Linked DNA regions of Homo sapiens: all the other regions are linked to region 3. The links come from fine-mapping of genetic effects on gene expression. A gene starts in region 3. Each other region holds a variant in brackets. All regions are shown on one strand. Distances are from middle to middle.

Region 1 (5,075 bases), 98 kb before region 3:
TCTCTCAGACAGCAGGAATGCAGAAAGGGAGCGCCACAGCTTCTCCTTCCAGGAGATGATCTGCAAATTGCACCTGTCATGCTTTGCTCACATTCTATTGCCCAAATGTAGTCACTTGTGATCCATAGAATGGATACTGGGAGACAATTAGTAGACTTTGCTACAGGTAGCCAATAGCCCAGCCTGCAGAGTCACGTCAGATATGAAATCCCAAAGTTCCTCCTGACTATTGGCAACAACAATCACTAACTGCTACTACAAAAAGGTAAAACAAAAATGAACTTACACTTTCAAAATATCATTCATGTATATTAAACAAATACTTCTTGAGTGTCTACCCAGTGCCAGACAGTGGTCTAGGTTCTGGGAGGTACAGCATCGTGGGCCACATGGTTAGAAGCTGAGTGTTCCTAACAAGGAGGCTGATTTTGCTGCTCTACTTTGCACTGGTTAAAAAAAAAATTCCACCTCCCACCCATCAAATATGGGGAGTACTGTGCTTGCTTCTGGGTGCACATTTGAGTAGGACCATTTATGACACCGCCAGCAGAGACAGATCAGGACAGTGGAAGGACTCAAGATCATCAGATGTAAAGAACAATTTGATTCTTGGTTTGGCAAGGTTTGGTCTCAAGAAACGGTGTGTGTGTGTGCACGCGTGTGTGTGTGTGTGTGTTGAGGGCATGTATAGAAGCATCATACTCTTCAGATGTTTGAGGCAGGTCCTGAGCAGGCAGGAGGATGGACTACTTAGGTGTGGACCCACAGGCAGAATCAGAACCAGTGGGATCTGGCTGTCAGGGGACAGCTTTTCACTCAACATGGAGAAGGCCTCTAAAGAGTGTAATGTCCCAGCATGCAGTGTGTTGTCTCAGGAAGGGTGAATTGTCTTTCACTAAAGGGATTCCAGCTGGATGAATCTTGGCAGGATGATTGTAGAGAGAATTCTACCACACAACAAGGCACTGAACCAGGTGACACAAAAATTTCCTTCTCACCTCAAGGTTCTAAGAACAGAAGGTCAGTGACATGAAGACCTACTGTGAATGCATTTACTCCAACCAACCGGGAGCCAGTGGGTATCAGCAGCCTCTGAGGTCTATTCCTTGATGTCTTGCAGATGAAGAGGCTCTCCATTCCACATTCCCCACTGATTTGAAGAGATTCTCCATGTTGGTCAGGCTGGTCTCGAACTCCTGACCTCAGGTGATCCACCTGCCTCGGCCTCCCAAAGTGCTGGGATTACAGACGTGAGCCACCGTGCCAGGCCCATATCCCCCTCCTGATAAGACCCTCAGCTGCCAATTTCTTGGATTCTGTCTTTGGTAAGCAATCCATTTAGAAGGGGAGATTTTAAACATTAACAAGAGCTTAAAGAAATAATTAAAGTGTGTGTGCTTGTGTATTATCTTGGACTCAGGGATGCAGAACCCCCCGCCCATAAGAAAGGCTGTTTCTACTCAAAAGCCCCTCTGTGCTTTGAAGCATCTTCCTCTAAAGTTTCTCATATTCAAGTCCCTCCCTGGTGCCTGGGACTGGCGGGGCTGGCAATGCCATCTGGACAAGGCGCTCTAAGGCGTGTGGGGTTTCCTGCAGGCCCTGCTTCCAGGAGTAACCTGACTGATGCATGGGTCACTCCTGGGTCTGGTGCGGTGTTTTGTTTTTTTCAACATACTGATTTGGAATGACTCAAATTATTTACACACACAGGGGCTCTGCATACGTTAGGGGCAGCCCTGATCGCCCCAGCCCTGTCCATCCATGTCCCAAGCCTCCTTCCCCAGAGGCAATGACAAGTGCATCTGAGAATCTTCAGTCGCCCTCAGGGATGAACATAGCTTCCACCCTTGGTTTCAGATGGATTGAAGCGGAGGCTCTCATCTGGGCCTTTTGAGGCTCGCCATGCTAAGTGCTGCCACCTGGAGGCAGCGTGGAGAAACCCTCGCTGGTGTTCCTCCCTTGGCCTTTGCTTCTGCCACGTGTAGTTTGTTATACGCTGTTTTTATCAAATCGGTCCAAGGTAGGAGATTTAAGAAATAATGTCCATAGATATTTGACTTCGCAAAATAGTCACTTATATACTTTCAGGGAAGAAACATTAAAAATTATGAAATCTGAGGAGGGGGAAGGAGAGGAAAAAAAATCCCAAATGTTTTGCTCCAAAGTCTGGCCCATTTTATTAACTAATATTAAAAATAGTTAATAATTATTGAGTCATAACTTTGCATCAGACCCCATATTAATAGCTTTATCTTCACAATTTCATTTAATTTTTCAAACAACCTGACGAGGAAGGTTCTGGCATTAACACAATTTTGTAGTTGATGAAATTGAGGTTAAGGGATGTTCGGTAGCTTGCTCAAGGTCTTACAGCTAGTAAGTGTTTGAGCCCGACTAGAGCAGTGCCTCAGCTCTTAATCACCATACTATTTAATAATATGATGATATAAACATGATGGCAAGTATGTATTGTGTATGCTATATGGCTAGCTGTGTAATATGAGTTTATTAATACCCACAAAAATAGGTATTACTATTATCTCCATTTCATTTGTGAGAAAACCAAGTCACAGAAAGGTTAAGTAACTTGTCACCAAAAGTGGTCTATCCAAGATTTGAATCCATGAAATCTAAGTCCAAAGCTCATATTCCA[C/CT]TTTTTTTTTTTTTTTTTTTGAGAGAGAGAATCTCGCTCTGTCACCCAGGCTGGAGTGCCATGGTGCAATCTTAGCTTACTGTAACCTCTGCCGCCTGGGTTCAAGTGATTCTTCTGCCTCAGCTTCCTGAGTAGCTGGGATTACAGGCACCTGCCACCAAGCCTGGCTAATTTTTTTGGTATTTTTAGTAGAGATGGGGTTTTGTCATGTTGGCCAGGCTGCTCTCCAACTCCTGACCTCAGGTGATCTGCCCACCTTGGCCTCCCAAAGTGTTGGGATTACAGGCGTGAGCCACCATACCCGGCCCAAAGCTCATATTCTTACTTTTATGTTCAAAGACCTCACTTCTTCACAAATGTTGACCAGGCCATGTTTGAAATTTGGTTTTATATGTGGAATATGTAATATGTTTTTTATGTGGAATGTATATATAAAACATATATAAAAACATATATAAAAATATGTTTTATATGTGGAATGTAAAATCAGAGCTCATAAACCAGGCACAGTGGCATATCGCAGTAGTCCCAGCTACTCAAGAGGCTGAGGTGGGAGGATCACTTGAGTCCAGGAGCTCAGGGCCAGCCTGGGCAGCATAGCAAGATCCATCAAGATCCATCTCTAGGAAAAACAAACAAACAAACAAAAAACAAGAAGAACTTACTCCCCTGGTATACTGTGGACCACAGACCATAGAAAGTACACATTGTCTGCTGAAAAATACGTAGAGAAGATACCTGGCTGGTACCCAGCCAGCAGGTGTTATGGATGCAGGGCGGCAGTGATGCCCATGCCACCCTGTATCTGCTCTTTTAGGTTCTAGGAGGCCCTGAGGGAGGGGGATTGTGTGTATCAGTTTTAGATGTCACCACCAACTCTGAACAGCTCTGAATCCTAGGACACATACTTATATCTGATTTTTACTGCATGTTTTTGTTTTGTTTTGTTTTTTGGAGACAGTCTCACTTCATCACCCAGGCTGAAGCACAGTGGCGTGATCATAGCTCACTGCCGCCTTGACCCCCTAGGCTCAGGCCATCCTCCTGTCTTAGCTTTCTGAGTAGCTGGGACTATAGGCACATGCCAGCATGCCTGGTTAATTTTTAAGTTTTTTTTTGTGTGTGTGGAGATGGGGTCTTACTATGTTGCCCAGGTGGGTCTCAAACTCCTGGCCTCAAGCAATCCTCTTGCCTTGGCCTCTTAATGTTGGGATTACAGGTGTGAGCCACTGTGCCCCACCCTACGCTGCATGTTTCAGTGGGGTAACAACAGAGTGGGATTTGCAAAAACTGTGTGTGGGAGAGACATCGACTCCCTTAGCCTTGGGTACTGGAGGTGAGGCAGCTGCAGAGAACTGCACTGGTGGCTGGGGGGCCATACCCCATCGACCTTGATGGAACAGCTGAAGGACACGGTTGTTTCCACTCTGACGCTGGCTTTCTGCTCTTTGCTCTCAAACGCCTCAGTGCTCCTTCCACAGGCTCTCTGAGTATCACTTGAAATATTCAGAGGAAAGTGGCTCTAAACTTTATGTTGGCCAAACACAAAGCCAGTGCCCATCACGGAAAGAACTCAAGAACATGGGCATATTCTTGCCTCTTATATTTGACGTTTTGCCTAACTCCAGTCTTTTATCAACTTTTGGACTTATAACTTTTAGAAGTTTTATTTCCCCTGCAGTGAGGGGGCTTGATCTTGTCCTTAGTCATCTCTCCCACCAGCAGGATTTACCAACTCTGGCTTAGCTGTTTCTTCCTCCACTTACTGGCTTGCCTTTGTCCTTAGGAGAGTAAAGCTGGCTTTAACACATTCCATATCCCAGGCTGGGCACAGTGGTGCACGCCTGTAATCCCAGCACTTTGGGAGGCCAAGGTGGGCAGATCACTTGAGGCCAGGAGTGGCCTGGCCAGCATGGTGAAACTCCGTCTCTACTAAAAATACAAAAATTAGCCGGGTATGGTGGGGCATGCTTGTAATCCCAGCGACTCAGAAGGCCGAGGCACGAGAATCACTTGAACCCAGGAGGCAGAGGTTGCAGTGTGATGAGATTGTGCCACTGAACACCAGCCTGGGTGACAGAGTGAGACTCCATCTCAAACCCCTGTACCCCCATCCCCCCCAAAAAAACCCATTCCAAATCTTTTCATCTCCTCTCTCTGTGGAGTGCTCTCTGTTGCTCAGCGCTCCATGCCCATTGCTGTGGAGCTGACCTGGGAGTGACTGATGGCTCCTGAGGCTGAAGGATGGAAATAGCAGGAGGGCTCCTGGCTGCCCCGCCTGTGGCAAGAGCCAACCAGCCTGCCAGGTACCGTGAACAGCAGCTGTGGCTATACAACCCTGAATGAAGAGGCTCGAGTTTCCTGAGTGGGAATGGCATGGCAATGACATGCTGTTCCTGAGTTGTCTGGGATCTGACATCTC
Region 2 (5,075 bases), 97 kb after region 3:
CAATGTACTTAGATGTCGAAGACTGAGGAACAGGCTTGTGTGTGTGTGTGTGTGTGTGTGTGTGTGTGTGTGTGTGTGTAATTAAGAATTCATTTGGGACATTTTACGTTTGAGATCTCTTTTAGACAACCAAGTGGAAGCGATGAGGAGGCAGTTGGATTATTGAATTTGAAACCCAAGGAAGGATTAGAGCTGCTGTTGTCAATTTGGGAATCATCAGCTTAAAGAGTCATCAGTTTAAAGCCCCTGAGACTAAGTGAGATCACCAAGAAGAGTACAGATAGAGAAAAGGGTCCCAGATCACATTTTGGGATCCAAGTGAAAGTAACTAGTAAAGGAATGTTTAGTGAGGTAGGAGGGAAACCAGAAGAGTGTGGTTGTTAAACTAGGAAAGAAAGTGTTTCAAGAAGAATATGGTTAAACGTTTCAAATGTTTCTGAAATACAAGACAATTGCCTATAGAATCTGGGGAAAAGAAGGTTGTATGTGACCTTGAAAAAAGGATTTCGTGCAGTGGGGAAGGATGTCCAGTCAGTGGGTCGAAGACAGCAGCCTGTGATCAGTAAGAAAACCACTATCATTTAATGAAGGAAAACCACTGCCATTTAATGAATGCTTTACTTTATGTTGGATATTGTACTAAGACTTTATATTAATTCTTAATTTGCACAACACAATGAATGATAATGTTGTCAGTATTTTAGAGAGGAGGAAACAGATTCAGAGAAGGTATGTACTTTGCCCAAGGTAGCACAGCTATTAGGTATGTGAAGTGCTTAGATTTGGACAGAAGTCTGTCTGGCTCTGAAGGCTTGTGTCCCTATCCACTGTGCACATTGTCTTCTAATCAGGTCACAGGGAACATCTATAGAGATAGTTGTAGAACTCATGTCTCCTGTGAAGCAGAAGATAGGGCTTGCTTTTTTTTTTTTTTTTTTTCGGTACAATTTGCATGTAAAATTATTCCGGACTGCTAGCAGTTGGCACTTTACTGCCATCTGCCATTATTCCTTAGAAAATCCCAGCTCTAGCACAATAAGATGAGGTGTTAGTGGTAAAAAGGTAATGGTTTATGTTCATTGAGCAGGCAGCTCCAGAAACTCATAATGTAAGTCCACTAATAAGAGTACAAAGATATCAGAACACCATCACTGTTCTTTAGTCCTGCTCTGTGCATAACAAAAATATACAGAGGAAAGTTAGGCAGCAGGCTATGCTCAGAAGTGCAGTATAAATATTAACTCTTAATCTTGTAATTTTGGGTAATCTGACTCAGGACAAAAAGTCCAGCAAGATGGGACCCCAGTGGTTGATACCCTGGTATTAACAATATAAGAAACAAATGTCATATATGGCAATAAGAAGTAATGTGTTCTGAAGAGAGCATCATGTGACTTGATGCTGAGAATTAGTGTCATTCTCGTAGGGTTAAAGCTACCAATAGCTCAACTATTAAGAGCTGAGAAATATGCTTCCTAGGAATCTCTGTGGTATGCAGGCTAATGGTGTATGCCTTGTTTCAGGCACACTTGGCTTTGAATCCTGGTTTCTTTGCATCTTAGTTGTATGACCTTTTAAAGTTTCAATGTTCTCCATCTGTCAAATGGGGATAATAACACCTACCCTCTTACGGTTGTGAAGATTAATGATAAAACGTTAAAATGACAGAATAAATGGTAGTGGTTTTTATTATAGTATTTGCAAGTGTGAAGGAACCAAATTGCTTGTTTTATTTATTGTGAAACAAGAACAAGTACAGCTACATACATAGATCCATACATTTCTTTTTCAAAGAAACACTCCTGTCTCCAGGGAGTTATTAAAAGTTTTACATGTTCACATTAATTCCAGAGAATTTATAATCATAAAATCCATTTATAGCCCTTAGTTGCCAAGCAACAAAGGACAAAGTACTGAGTATTTCCTTTTATTGCAAAAGGTTCAGCTTTTCCATGTTGGTCTTGAAATCTACATTTTTCAGAAAACACAGAACAGTGAAACTTAATATATTTCCAAGATTTAGTTGGCATTCTTTGTTTGGGGTTAGACTCAAAGCTGAAAGAAATATATTGTTATTATTGTCCTGTTCTTAGATCGTCTGAAGGATTTTGTTCTAATTTTATAGTAAATCTGTAAGAAGTTCTGAAGTTGAGAGACTGCAAATTCATTTTAAGGAGATAACTTTTTTCAGTTTACCTATGTTCTGTGATGCTCTCATTTTAAAAGAACCGGTTCTTGTATCTATCAACTGTCTTTCAGGAAAGGCCGGGGTGGTATAAAATTCATACAGAAAAATGCTATCTGCTGACCTTGTTAATCACTGACCTCAAGTAGGTCATTCAGCCATGCCTTGGCAGGGTTTGGGGAAGCTGGCTCAGATCTGAACTAAATTCTCTAC[C/T]TCCTTAAAAGGGATAGAAGTTTTTAACTACTTCTGCTGTTTTTGTTCATGAAAAACCAGAAGTAAAGGTTTGAAAGTCCATATAATCCAGAAGGATATATTACTATTTAACATCCCATAAAGAACTCCAGTACAACTCATATATTTAACCGCTCATAAAAGCATGCATGGGAAACAGTTTCTTAATTTGCATAGCTATTTTTTTATTCATCTGTATTAAAACAGTGCAAAAGCAGATTAGACATCTTTGGAATTTTACTGCCCTTGTTCCTATCTGTGTTCTGTATATGTAGTGGATTCCGTAGATGGAAAGAGAGAAGACAATGATCCTCTTTTTTTCTTCCATTGTTGGATTAGGGAAGCTTGTTGCTTTGAAACAAATCTATTGATAAGTCTCATGAAAGTTCCTGACATGGAAGAGGTTCCCTTGTCCCCCTCACAGGGTGTGTGACAGGGGCAGTGGCTCGCTTCTTCAGTGCCCTGCTGCTCAAACCTCTAGGAGAGCATACAGACGGGCAGGCTGTGGGGCTCCAACACCATGGCAGTGTCTAGAGGTGAATGCTTACAGCTCCTAAAGCCCCAGTGGATGTGTGTTACAGTGTGCTCTTTTAGTTTTGCCGTCTATAGGCTTGTGTTAACCACCTCAACTAGACCCTCTACCTTGTCGCAAGGACAAGAGGGCTTTCTTTATCCTGGGTTCTTGCCTTGGTGTACCGGAAGAATCGGATCACACGTGGGCTTGGAGAATGAGTGCAAGGTTTTATTGACTGGAAGTAGCTCGCAGCAGGTGGGGGAACCAGAAGGGAGTTGGTTTTCCCACTCAGTGGCCCGGATTGCCCTGGCCAAATTCCGTGTGCTTCTGCCGGTCAGGGGCTAGCCGGCATGCCGGTGTGGGTCCATTCCTCTTGACGTCCAGCCGCCTGTGTGTTCCTTCACCAATGTGCTCCTCTTGCCCTCCAGCTGCTTCTGTCTCTGCCTTGCTGGGGTCTCGGGTTTTTATAGGCACAGGATGGGGGACGTGGCAGGCCAGGGTGGTCATGGGAAATGCAGCAGAAATGCCTGTCCTCACCTAGGTCCATGGAGGTGGAGCCCTAACTAGGGAACACACCCTCCTCTACCCAGCACTCCCGCATCAGTCCTATGTGCAGGAAGAGGCAGAAATGACACAAATGATTATAATTCCACAAGATAACAGCTAGTCAAAGCTCTTCTGCTAAGAGTAAATATTCCTTGGAACGATTTTTCTGTGTGAATATAAGAGTAAGATCTAGCTGTTAGCATGAGCAGGCTAATTCCAGTCAATCAGAAGAGGGACACTTTAAAATCTATTATCCATCCATCTCAAGTGTTGTTCCTTAAGAAGCATTTGAAGAACTGCCATTAGCTCCTTTTATCCGTATAAGGATAAGACAAACAAAAATTTGCTTCCTTCCCCTGAGAGAGGCAGGTTTCTGTGTGAGAATCTGAAATAACCTTTACTGGTGGTGAGGAGGTCAGGTCTGTGAAACAATGCTCAGGACCTGTCCTCCCCTTTGCTGGCTTTTTGTGAAAATGTTAGAAAAAACAAAAATCTATAGACGGCCACCAATATTAACGTGTGTTTATTTTGCCAGTTCATTCTTAACCCAACTTCAAAGTTTCTTTCTCACTCTGCCATTTGTGTTATGCTTGCTTATAGAGTTTGACATTTTACAAACTCTTGCATTTCCATCAACTTGTTGGTCCTTCACACATTTAAAAAAAAAAATTGAGCCTTAACAAATTGACAGATATGCCTAAAATCGGATTGGTAAATTTCAGGCAAGACCCTGTGTTTTCATTCCAAGTCCAACACTTTTTTCATCTGCACACCACTCCGCCTACCCAGAGGGAAGAGCAGGGAAAGACAGGTATTGGCCCATTAGCTTCCGTATTCTAGAACGAGATGCCAATAAATATAGTCAGTATTTGGGAAAATTGCCTCCCTTCTATCCTCCTCTCACTCACTTACCCCTAGCCATTGTATAATTGCTCACAAACTGGCCACTGGCTACCCAACTCCCTCTTCAGGACAGAGTCAAAGTTTCCATCTTTTCGGACTTTGCCTAACCCCCTGCTTGGATGTAACTGATCTGTCATGAGTTCAACAATTGGTTCATTGTTCTGAGCCCTGTCTCCGGGGGAGTGGAGAGGAATTGGAAAGGGATGCACACTTACTGTGTGCCATGAACCAGTAGTAGATTCATATATGTTATCACATTTCATCTGCAAGCCACTCTGTAAGGTGGTAAAACCCATCTCCTTCATCCAGATGAGGAAGTAGGCCCAGAGAAGTTAAGCAAAAGTAGAATTTAACCCAGGCCTGCCTGACTTGCAGTTTTCTAAGTCTCATGCTCTTCTTACCTCTGGGTCACATGGGGCTTCCTCCTTCTGGAGCACACTTCCCTGCCTTGTTTACTTGGTTAACTTGGTTCACTCAAGATTCTGGCTTTGGCGTCATTCCCTCAGGGGCTCCCAGTGTGTTTCCACAGTACTTTGCACTTCACCTTTCAAAGTATGTAATGAATGCCTTTTTTCCGTGTCTGTCTCCTATGGACACCTGGAAGGAGGGAACTATGCCTTCTTCATTCTTGTAGCCTCTGCACCTAGGGACTGGTACATAGCAGTCACTCAAATGTATGTGTTGAGTCAATAAATA
Region 3 (5,075 bases):
GTATAATTTACATTTTTAAAAAATAAAGAGAAAAAAATAAAGAGAAAAAGGCAACCTTGAGCACACTATAAAATCTTTCACTCTTTTTTTTTTTTTTTTGAGATGGAGTCTCACTCTTGTCACCCAGGCTGGAGTGCAATGGCGCGATCGGCTCACTGCAACCTCTGCCTCCCGAGTTCAAGTGATTCAAGGTTCAAGTGATTCTCCTGCCTCAGCCTCCCGAGTAGCTGGGATTACAGGTGCCAGCCACCATGCCCGACTAATTTTTTATGTTTTTGGTAGAAATGGGGTTTCACCATGTTGGCCAGACTAGTCTTGAACTCCTGACCTCAGGTGATCTGCCCACCTCAGCCTCCCAAAGTGCTGTGATTACAGGTGTGAGCCACCGCGTGCGGCCTTTTGTTTTGTTCTTTTGAGACAGGGTGTCACTCTGTCGCCCAGGCTGGAGTGCAGTGGCGTGATTTCGGCTCACTGCAGCCTCCGCCTCCCGGGTTCAAGTGATTCTCCCACCTCAGCCTTCCAAGTAGCTGGGACTACAGGTGTGTGCCACCATGCACAGCTGATTTTTTTTTTTTTTTTTGGTAGAGATGGGGATTCACCACGTTGGCCAGGCTGGTCTCGAACTCCTTACCTCAAGGATCTGCCCACCTTGGCTTCCCAAAGTGCTGGGATTACAGGCATGAGCCACCGTGCCCATCCAAATCTTTCACATTTTTAAATTTTGTGAAATAGCTGTCCTTTTTATATATGGGTAAGCTATCAAACTTAAGATGCTCACAGCCCTTTACATACTTTGTAGGCTGAGATTCTGAGTGTCTAATATTCTGTAATGTATCTTGGTCTCTGTGCTGCAAGAACACTGAAGTATTATTATAGGTAACAATCTATATCACTCTTCTCAAACAGCGCTAACAGGTTAAGTATTCAAGAGGAACATCTTTCAGTATATTTCAAAAAGCCTCATGGATGGTAGGTGATTTGTAAATGGACCAACGCAGGACTCAGGCATATATGGTTACTGCTTACTATTTCCTATAGATCATGATGTCTTAGGTCTTATGTAGAATATATCATAGGACTTGTCCTCTAAACATTCACATACCAAGACTGCACTCTGCATGCATGCCATTCACTCATTCTGCATTTACTGAGTCAGTCCTACTGCATGTCAGACCTTGTGCCTGTTCTCAAGAAGCTCGCAGTCCAGGAAAATGGAGAAATACAGATACAATTATAACTCTATGTGATAAGTGTTACAAAGAGATACGGTGTTATGGAAGCCCTGGTAGGGGCACTTAGCCCATACTGGAGTGGCTGGGATAGGGCTGAGTGGCCAACAATAGGGAAGGGTTCACAGTGGAATTGATGTCTAGGCTAAATAATGAATAACAAATAATTAGCAAGGCAAGGAAAAGGTAGGAGATCAAGACATAAAAATAAACAGCATATGGAAATACAGGGTTGTATGTGAGTACGGCAAGACTGGGGAGCCTAAGTGGTTTGCTGTATATTTAATTTATTCATTTCACGTAGCTACTATTGACATACTTGTCTCCCTATATATGTTTGAGTCCGTGGATGGTGGGGACTTTGTAATGGTTTCTCTGTCCCTATGTCTAACAGGAGGCACACAGATGGAGTGCAATAAAATGTCTGATGAATAAATGACCAGCTATGAGGTGTAAGGGAGAATAGGAATCCATTAATGAGAAAGGTCATTTCTAGTGGCAATGAATATCAGATAAGATAGATTTAAGAATTATTTAGAAATTAGGATGAATAAGACTTGGTGATATATTGGCGATGGGGTATAAAATAAGAAACACTGGCTTTCTAGGTTTCTGGATTACAGATGCATGATAATAGTTATAATGGTATAATAACAATAGCTAATATTTATTAGGCACTCTGTGTCATGAAGTACGCAAAGTGTTTACATGAATTAAGCCATTTAAACTCTTAATGACTCAGTGAGGCAGGTTCTGTATACTCATTCACTGATGAGAAAATTGGGGCTAGAGAGATTCATTTGCCTAAGGTCACTCAGCTAGCAGGTGGCAGGCTCAAGCCCAGTAATTCTGACTCCAACAACCATACATATAGTCTACTTTTCTTTACTGCCTCTAATAGATGAGATTAATACCCAGAATGATGGTCCTATTCAATAAGTGTATCACACAAATGCACGTTTCTCTTTTGCTAAACATAGAGACACATACTATGACTACCTCTATTATTATTATTTTTTTTTGATTTTTGGGATCTTGGCTCTTTCTGTATTTTTCCTACCTGGAAGACCTAAAGTGGGGTAGAAGTTTGATAAAACAGTTGGCACAAAAGATGAGAGAAGACAGGTACAGACATGACATTCTCGAACGCTCTGGCAGTTGCTGGAATGATGGGATCTGGGTTCTACAGGATTCCTCCCCTCCCATCTCCCGCCACACACACACACGTCGTAAGGTGTATATGGCCGCGGAGTCTCAGGTTGGTTCTAGGAGTCCTCAACCCACGGCAAAGGTGCCTCTTCTCCCTCCTGGAGAGCCCAACATGCTTGAAGTTAACCTGAGGCCGCCTCTCGGGCCCGGCGAAACAGAGCGCGGGCCCGACGAAACAGAGCGCGGGCCCGACGAAACAGAGCGCAGCTCCGGCTCGCGCTGGTTCCCAGGGAAACCGCCCGCGGAGGAACCTCGGGCCAGGGCCGTGACACCTGCGACGAGCCCCGCCTGGCGCCAGGGGGCGCGGAAGCGCGTCCGCCCCCAGGCCCCATGCCGGGCTCGCCCCGCCCCTGCCGGCCACACCCCCCTACCCCGCCCTCCCTCCGTGAGGACCGGCCGCTCCCGGCTCCCGGCCCCCGGCCCCGCTTCCGGCGCAGGCGCAGTCCCGCGTTCCCTCGGCGGCTGCCGGCGTAGTGAGCCCGCCGCCGTGGAGTGTAGCGGAAAGGGCTCGCCGTCCTCCTCCGTTTCTCGCTGCTTCGGGACGCGCTCTCTGCGGCTCTGTGAGCGCCCCTGAGCGCCGGCAGCGGCCGCGGTGGGTTCTTCAGGTGAGTGCGGCCGCGGGAGGGAGAGGCCCGGAGCGTAGAGCACCGCCCCCCTCGGCGCCCGCGCGCCCGCCTCTGGCGAGTCGGCCAGGAGGGGCGGCCGCGGCAGGTGCAGGTGCTGGCGCCGTGCAGGGCGCGGCACGCGGGGGTTCGGGGGGATGCCCAGGCCCGGTGAGCTCGCTCTCCGCCTGGGCACTTGGGCTCCGGGCCCTTGGGGGCGGCGTGTGGGGGGGACTTTGGCGACCCGGGTCAGCCGGCCGCCCCCTGGGCTGCTGGTGGGCGTCGGGCGGCGGCTCCTCCCCCGGGCACGGGCGCGTTACACATTAACTGCGCGGTCCCGCGCGCCCGGGGCAGGGAGCCCGAGTCCAGCGGGTTACCTGGCGGCGGGCGGGCGCGGCCGGGAGCGGAGGGCCGCGGTCGCGAAGAGGATGAAGAGAGAGTTCCCGAACAAGTCGGAAGCAGCTCACAACACCGGACGCCGCGCGGCAGGGCTGTGGACCTGGGGTGGTTTCGTGTCCCAGTCTTAGGAAACTACGCGCGAGGCACCGTGCTGAGGCGTAGAGGTCACCCTCGGGAGGTTTCGGTGAAACCTGGTGGGAAATTCCGGGCAGGCGCCCGGAGTCGCGCCCAAGTAGGCAGCTCCGTGCCGCCAGACTTGTGTTCGGGGGAGTTGAGACGAACTGCACGGGTGGGATTGCATGGCTCTGCCCTCCCAGCGTTGACAACTCGCCCCGACCGCCCAGGAAGCGCGAGCTTACTGGCTCCAGAAGTGATGATGCTGGGTGGAAGTCGCAGCATGTGAAGAGTTGCCGGTTGTTATGGGATTAAAAAAGATGAAAGGGTAAGGTCTTGAAAGACACGAGCGCTGAGTTAGTTAGTACTGATTACTGAGAGGCAATTTAGTTTCATGGAAATGTTGCCTGTTCGGAGGCTACCTGTTATACACTCTCCTGTTTCACCCCAACTCCTTCCGTTCAGTGTCGGGTTAAAAGCCTTGTAATCTCTTGCAGTGGAATGATTGCATAATTGGAGGAGGGGCCCATAAGAGGATTACAACAAAACTGTTCCATTGTAAATCAGTTGAAAGACCCAGTTCTTGTTCATTATCCTTTTTCTCATTTTGTTGTTCATGAAGGTTTTTTTTTCTTCCAGTGCTGAATGACAAATCAAGGAGAAAAGAGGCAGAATAGGGTTGTAGACCAATCGTAGTAAATATTTGATACTGTTAAATATTTCACCAGTTTTATGGGGCCTTGTTCTGTTATCATTTGTTATTTATTTACTAGTACTGTGCATTTTGATAGGACTTTTCATGTTTGGACAGACAGTGTATTCCAGATGCGGCTTATGTGATCTAATCCTAAAGCCCTTGTGGAATTTATAGAAATAAACAGTTATACAATTAAGTAGTCCATTTTTTAACTATTAAATGAAAAGCCATTGCATTTTTTTCCATTACAGTAATGTTACATATTAATGTATACCTTTGTGAACCAAAGTGTTTGATACAACTCTTCCTTCTGTGTTTGGTAAACAACTCATCTGTGGTACTGAATACTTGTAATCTTTCACCAGGATGGCCATTTAATGTTTAGCTGCTTTGTGGGATTTCTGAATAGATCCTATTGTACTTTTTGAATTAGTGCAGTTATCCATATGTTTCCTTTAATATTCTTTACCTTTGATTTTGTCTAAACTCTCATCCTCCCCCAACACACACATCCTCTACAAATAATTTTTAAAATGGAAAGGTTCTTAGAAATGTTTCACCCCCTCATTTTTTAAATATGGCACGAAAAAATACTTTGTAGATTACAGTAGTTTTATATGCATTATAGTAGTTACTATACTTTTTTCCTCCTCAACAGGAGTCAGTGAACAAATTAGTGAGCTGGCTGAATGAAAAATTATTTAATGTTCAGCTCCATCACTTACTGTGCATAAAACCTTGAGTAAAACATTTAACCTGTTTGAGCTTATTTTCTCCATTTGTCAGTGGAAATACTATTAGGTTGAAATTGCTAATATTCTGCTG
Region 4 (5,075 bases), 110 kb after region 3:
TGGTATTTCTAGTTCTAGATCCCTGAGGAATCGCCACACTGACTTCCACAAGGGTTGAACTAGTTTACAGTCCCACCAACAGTGTAAAAGTGTTCCTATTTCTCCACATCCTCTCCAGCACCTGTTGTTTCCTGACTTTTTAATGATCACCATTCTAACTGGTGTGAGATGGTATCTCATTGTGGTTTTGATTTGCATTTCTCTGATGGCCAGTGATGATGAGCATTTTTTCATGTGTTTTTTGGCTGCATAAATGTCTTCTTTTGAGAAGTGTCTGTTCATATCCTTTGCCCACTTTTTGATGGGGTTGTTTGTTTTTTTCTTGTAAATTTGTTTGAGTTCATAACTAGTGGCAATCAGGAGCTACAGTTCTTTGGTAATTGTCTGGTGGGGTGGGAGGTTCTTGTGCCACTCAAACTGCTGCAGTAAGACAAAGGCTTAGTCAGAGGGCTCTGAAGGAAACTCACATTTCAAGGCCCTTTTGTTGTTGGGTGCTAATGTATTCTTCTGCTCAGAAACTGCAGAAAGGATGGGGTGAAGGAGGGCATATAGAACAGAGAGCATATGCCCCAATTATGCCACCTCTTTACTAAGGATTGTCAATCCAGTCCTTGCTAGTGAAGACATTCATTCATTCATTCAACAAATATTGTTTTTTTCAAAGAAAAAGTTCATTTTATTCTTACTCAGAGATGAACTTCTTTTATAACTTTATGATTACAAAAGTAATACATTTAAAGAATAAAACAAGTATAAAGAAGAGAAAACAAAACAAAGCACTATCACTGAAGATAATCACCATTAACATTTTGGATTCCATCTCTGTGGCTTTTCTATGCATTTGTTATCCAGACACATATACTTCCTCATTAGCTGGCTCTGGAGTCCTAGAAAATATTTACCTCGCTCTTCAAATGACTTCTCTCTCTCTCTTTAAAAAAAGAAAAAGAAAAAAGCTTTAGTACTATGAGGTTACAGTGATGAATAAGACAACTATGATTTTTGCCCTCATGAACCTTTTCTAGTAAGATATAGGCAATCATTAAGAAGCTTTGATTTGAGAATTATTAGTCCAAAACCTTAGAAGCAGCATTTGCTTTCAACCTTGCTTTTCATGTAGTCTGAAAAAATCAATTTTTATGTAGTCAAATTTATAGACTTTTTTTCTGTATATTTTTTGGTATTCTTATTATGGTTTAAGAGTCTTTTTCTCTTTCCAAAATATACAGACATCAGACATATGTGCCTGTTTTCTTCTAGTAATATTATGGTTTATCTAAATCCTCCATACATCTAGGAATTCATTTTGGTGTAGAGGTGAGACTCTAGTATAGAACATAGCTTTTTTTCATGGACATAAAATGATACATCTATCACAAACTAAATTCTCATAAGTATGTTTGGGTTTATTTCTGGACTTTATTATGTTCAAAATATTGGTCTGTTTATTGTTGCAACACAATATTTATATTACTTTTGTACATCTTGTTGGTAAATATCCCTTTTTTACTCACATGTTTTTTATTATCATGGGTATTTTCACATTAGCATTCTTTGAGATAAACTTTAGAATCAGTTTGTTTCCTTAAGAAATTTTTGATTGTAGATATATTAAATTTATAAATTAATTTAGGAGTATTTACATCTTTATACTATTGCCTTTTTTATCCAAACAAAATATGCTCTTAATTTATTCATCTTCTCTTCATTCTATCAGAATTTTAGAGTTTCTTCTTTTGATTTAATTTTATTCCTGACAATTATATTCCTATTATAAATGGATCTTTCTGCATTACATTTTCTCAGTAGCTGTTGTTTGAATATAGAAATCTATTTTTTATACATTACTTTTGTGGTGGTCTCCTTATTGAAGTTGCCTATTATTTTAAACAAGTTTTAGTTGGTATTCTTTGATTTTATAAGTTTAAAATATATGTCATATGCAAATTATTTCCACCTTTCTGACATTCATAACTCTCTTCATTTTCTTGATTAAGTGGGATGCTAGTGCCTTTAGCAGTGTATTGTGTAATAACATGGTAACTAAAATACTTATTTTATTTCTAACATTAATGAAAATACAGTAGTTCTAATTTTCTAAATCATTAAACATGACACTGGCTCTTATTTGTTTTTGTTTTTGTTATTGATTATTGAGACAGATCTTGCTCTGTCACCCAGGCTGGAGTGCAGTGCTGTGATCTCGGCTCACTGCAACCTCTACCTCCCGGGTTCAAGTGATTTTCATGCCTCAGCCTCCCAAGTAGCTGGGACCACAGGTGCATGGCACCACACCCAGCTAATTTTTGTATTTTTAGTAGAGACAGGGTTTCACCATGTTTGCCAGGCTGGTTTCAAACTCCTGGGCTTAAGTGATCTGCCCATCTCAGCCTCCCAAAGTGCTGGAATTACAGGCGCGAGCCATTGCGCCCAGCCAACACTGGGTCTTATTTGATGTTAGTTTTCTATCATAAACATAATATATATGTGCATATGAATATATATAATCTTAAGGATGTATTCATTGGAATTGATGTTGAATGCCTTTTGGCATTAAGAAGGTCAAATACTATTTTACCTTTGATATATGAATTCTAGTATTGAGTCATCTTTGTGTTTCTTGATGATAAATTTTTCTTTTAATGTTGAATTTCATTTGACAGCATTTTATTTAGGATTTGAGTATACCATTCACAAATTATATTAGTCTATGGTTTTCTTTATGCATTTCATCTCTATCAGATTTTGGCATTCATTTTATGCTAGCTTCATGAAAATACTTTGGATACTTTTATTCTTTCTCTGTTTCACAATTGTGAAAATGGTAGAAGAGTTATATTGTTAAAGTTTTAA[C/A]AGCATGATCCTTGATGTCATTGGAACCTTGCTTGTTTATGCAGGGGTAGGGTGATGGTTATGGTGAAATTTTTCTCTGTTTATTCCAGGGCTATTTGTCATTTCAGACTTTCTCTTTATTTTTGAGTTGATTTTGGCAATTTGATTTTTTAATTGTTTTAGAAAATCATTTTACCCAAAGTTGTATAAAATATTTTTCCAAAGTTTAAAATTAGGACTTGAAAATAATGATCAATTGCCCTCAATCCTATAATCTAACCAGTGTTAATGGTGGTGGGATGTTATTTCATCATCTCTCCATGAATATCTACAGATAGAAGGATATGTGGGTGGATGGATGGGTGATGTGGTTTGGCTCTGTGTCCCCACCCAAATCTCATCTTGTAGCTCCCATAATTCCCACGTGTTGTGGGAGGGACCTGGTGGGAGATGATTGAATCATAGGGGGAGGTCTTTCCTGTGCTGTTCTTGTGATAGTGAATGAATTTCATGAGACCTCATGATTTTAAAAATGGGAGTTTCCCTGCACAAGCTCTCTTGTCTTGTCTGACACCATGTGAAATGTGCCTTTCACCTTCCACCATGATTGTGAGACCTCCCTATCTATGTGGAATTGTAAGTCCAATAAACCTCTTCGTTTTGTAAATTGCCCAGTCTTGGGTGTGTCTTTATCTGTAGCATGAAAACAGACTAATACAATCAGTAGGTAGATAGATGGATAGAAATTATCATTATAAGAAATGATCTTATATGCACTATTTTAATAAAATATTAAATTTAATATAAAATATTAATTTTACTTGAATTTAACAGAATAAAAATAACTTGAAGGAAAACTAAAGGAATTACAGAATTTTAATTCTGAAAAAAGTAATTATTTATTGTTAAAACTATCAGTTCTAAAGGATTCTTCCAAGATTAAGGAAAGGGGATTTAGAAAATGACTAAAAAGTTGAAGAAGTTTTTTTAACCAAATGGTACAGGTTTAGGTAGTAAAGACGAATTCTGAGATATGAGTGGTGAGATAATTAGTATTACATCTCTTCCCACCTCCCATCTCCCTGCCTTCCAATTTTTGTTGATTATATTATTTTTTCTTTGTCAGGGTTTATTACTTTTCCATTTTGATCTGTAGCCAAAATCCCCTTAGAATTTCAGTCTAAATCCTATATTTACATGAATTCGCTCTTCATCCATGGTTGTTTTTCACCTCAGTTTCTGTATTCTTTGTTTTTTTTCTTGTGATTCATTCTTGATTGGCTGAATTTTATTGTTAAGGAGCTACTTTCAAGAGGGACTTAAAGGAGTCTTATACCCTCAACTTTTTCATTTTGGAATTGTCTATCTGTTGCCTTTATATTGGGAAAGAAATTCACCGCATACAAGATTTTGCAACCCACTTTTTTCTCTTGAGACATTGTAAAATTTATTACAATGGCTGCATAATATTTCATGGAATGGATCTTACTTATGTAATATTCTTGTCAAACATATACAATTTGAATTTAACCATAAGATAATAGGAGGCAAACTAAAACTGAGGGACATCCTATAAACAACTAGCCTGTACTTTTTGAAAAATCTAAAAAGACATGATAACCCAATGCATTATGTTATTCTGGATTAGATTCAGGACTGGAAAAAATTGTCTATAAATGCTTATTACCTGGATGATGGGATCTATACTTTAAATCTCAGCATCATGCAATATACTTATGGAACAAACTTGCACATGCACCCTTTATTTCTAAAATCAAAGTTGAAAGAAATAATTTTTGCTGAATACCGAGGCTTAAACCAAAACAGAACATATTTCAGTTTGTTTTTCATTTTTTGTATTAAAATACTTATGAACATCAAAACATGCTAAAACTATTGGGTAAAAATTTGATGAGAAACAGTATGTATGCAAAATCTCAAAGTATCTCCCCACAAATTATAAAAGGAGAGCTTTTACAGTGAGGAAAGCTGGCAGACAGTACTTTAACCAAGGAATCAACATTAACATCAGTCATAACAGAACATTATTATCCTTCTGATGTAAGGCACTGAGAAGGACATAATATCACTTACATAATATTTTATTTTGAGACAAGGTCTAGCTTTGTTGCCTAGGCTGAAGTGCAGTGGTGCGATCATGGCTCACTGTAGCCTCAACCTCCCGGGCTCAGAAGAACCACCCACCTTAGCCTCCTGAGAATCTGGGACTACAGACACACACC

Direction of the effects. Positions count from the first base shown, and alleles are read on the strand shown. Sizes are in standard deviations (SD) of each study's normalised expression. Not every link is listed here.
With allele CT in place of C in region 1, the expression in prefrontal cortex of the gene that starts at base 2,872 in region 3 is lower (small effect, 0.28 SD a copy in CommonMind).

The links. PIP is the estimated chance that this variant, and not a neighbour inherited with it, causes the effect. A credible set is the group of variants that fine-mapping cannot tell apart.
Region 1: its variant is the best candidate, but not a certain one, in a credible set for the expression of RAB3IP in prefrontal cortex (CommonMind, PIP 0.82).
Region 2: its variant is the best candidate, but not a certain one, in a credible set for the expression of RAB3IP in whole blood (TOPMed, PIP 0.74).
Region 4: its variant is the best candidate, but not a certain one, in a credible set for the expression of RAB3IP in esophagus muscle (GTEx, PIP 0.88).

The regions. Positions count from the first base shown.
Region 1 is chr12:69,637,690-69,642,764 of GRCh38, forward strand. LOC105369823 (a long non-coding RNA gene) reads left to right here. Exons shown (of 5, transcript XR_007063358.1): 3 at 1,121-1,325. Among named protein-coding and RNA genes, the nearest start is that of LRRC10, 29 kb to the left of the region's middle. RefSeq lists an enhancer at 1,781-1,860. The variant C/CT (reference allele first, on the strand shown) is at 2,654.
Region 2 is chr12:69,832,909-69,837,983 of GRCh38, forward strand. All of the region lies in intron 1 of MYRFL (myelin regulatory factor like), which reads left to right. Among named protein-coding and RNA genes, the nearest start is that of MYRFL, 10 kb to the left of the region's middle. The variant C/T (reference allele first, on the strand shown) is at 2,399.
Region 3 is chr12:69,735,989-69,741,063 of GRCh38, forward strand. It overlaps RAB3IP (RAB3A interacting protein), which reads left to right and starts at 2,872. Exons shown (of 11, transcript NM_022456.5): 1 at 2,872-3,043. It overlaps LOC101928002 (a long non-coding RNA gene), which reads right to left and starts at 2,562. Exons shown (of 4, transcript NR_110072.2): 1 at 2,290-2,562. RefSeq lists a silencer at 2,620-3,449.
Region 4 is chr12:69,846,736-69,851,810 of GRCh38, forward strand. The region is part of intron 1 of MYRFL (myelin regulatory factor like); the gene reads left to right. Among named protein-coding and RNA genes, the nearest start is that of MYRFL, 24 kb to the left of the region's middle. The variant C/A (reference allele first, on the strand shown) is at 2,854.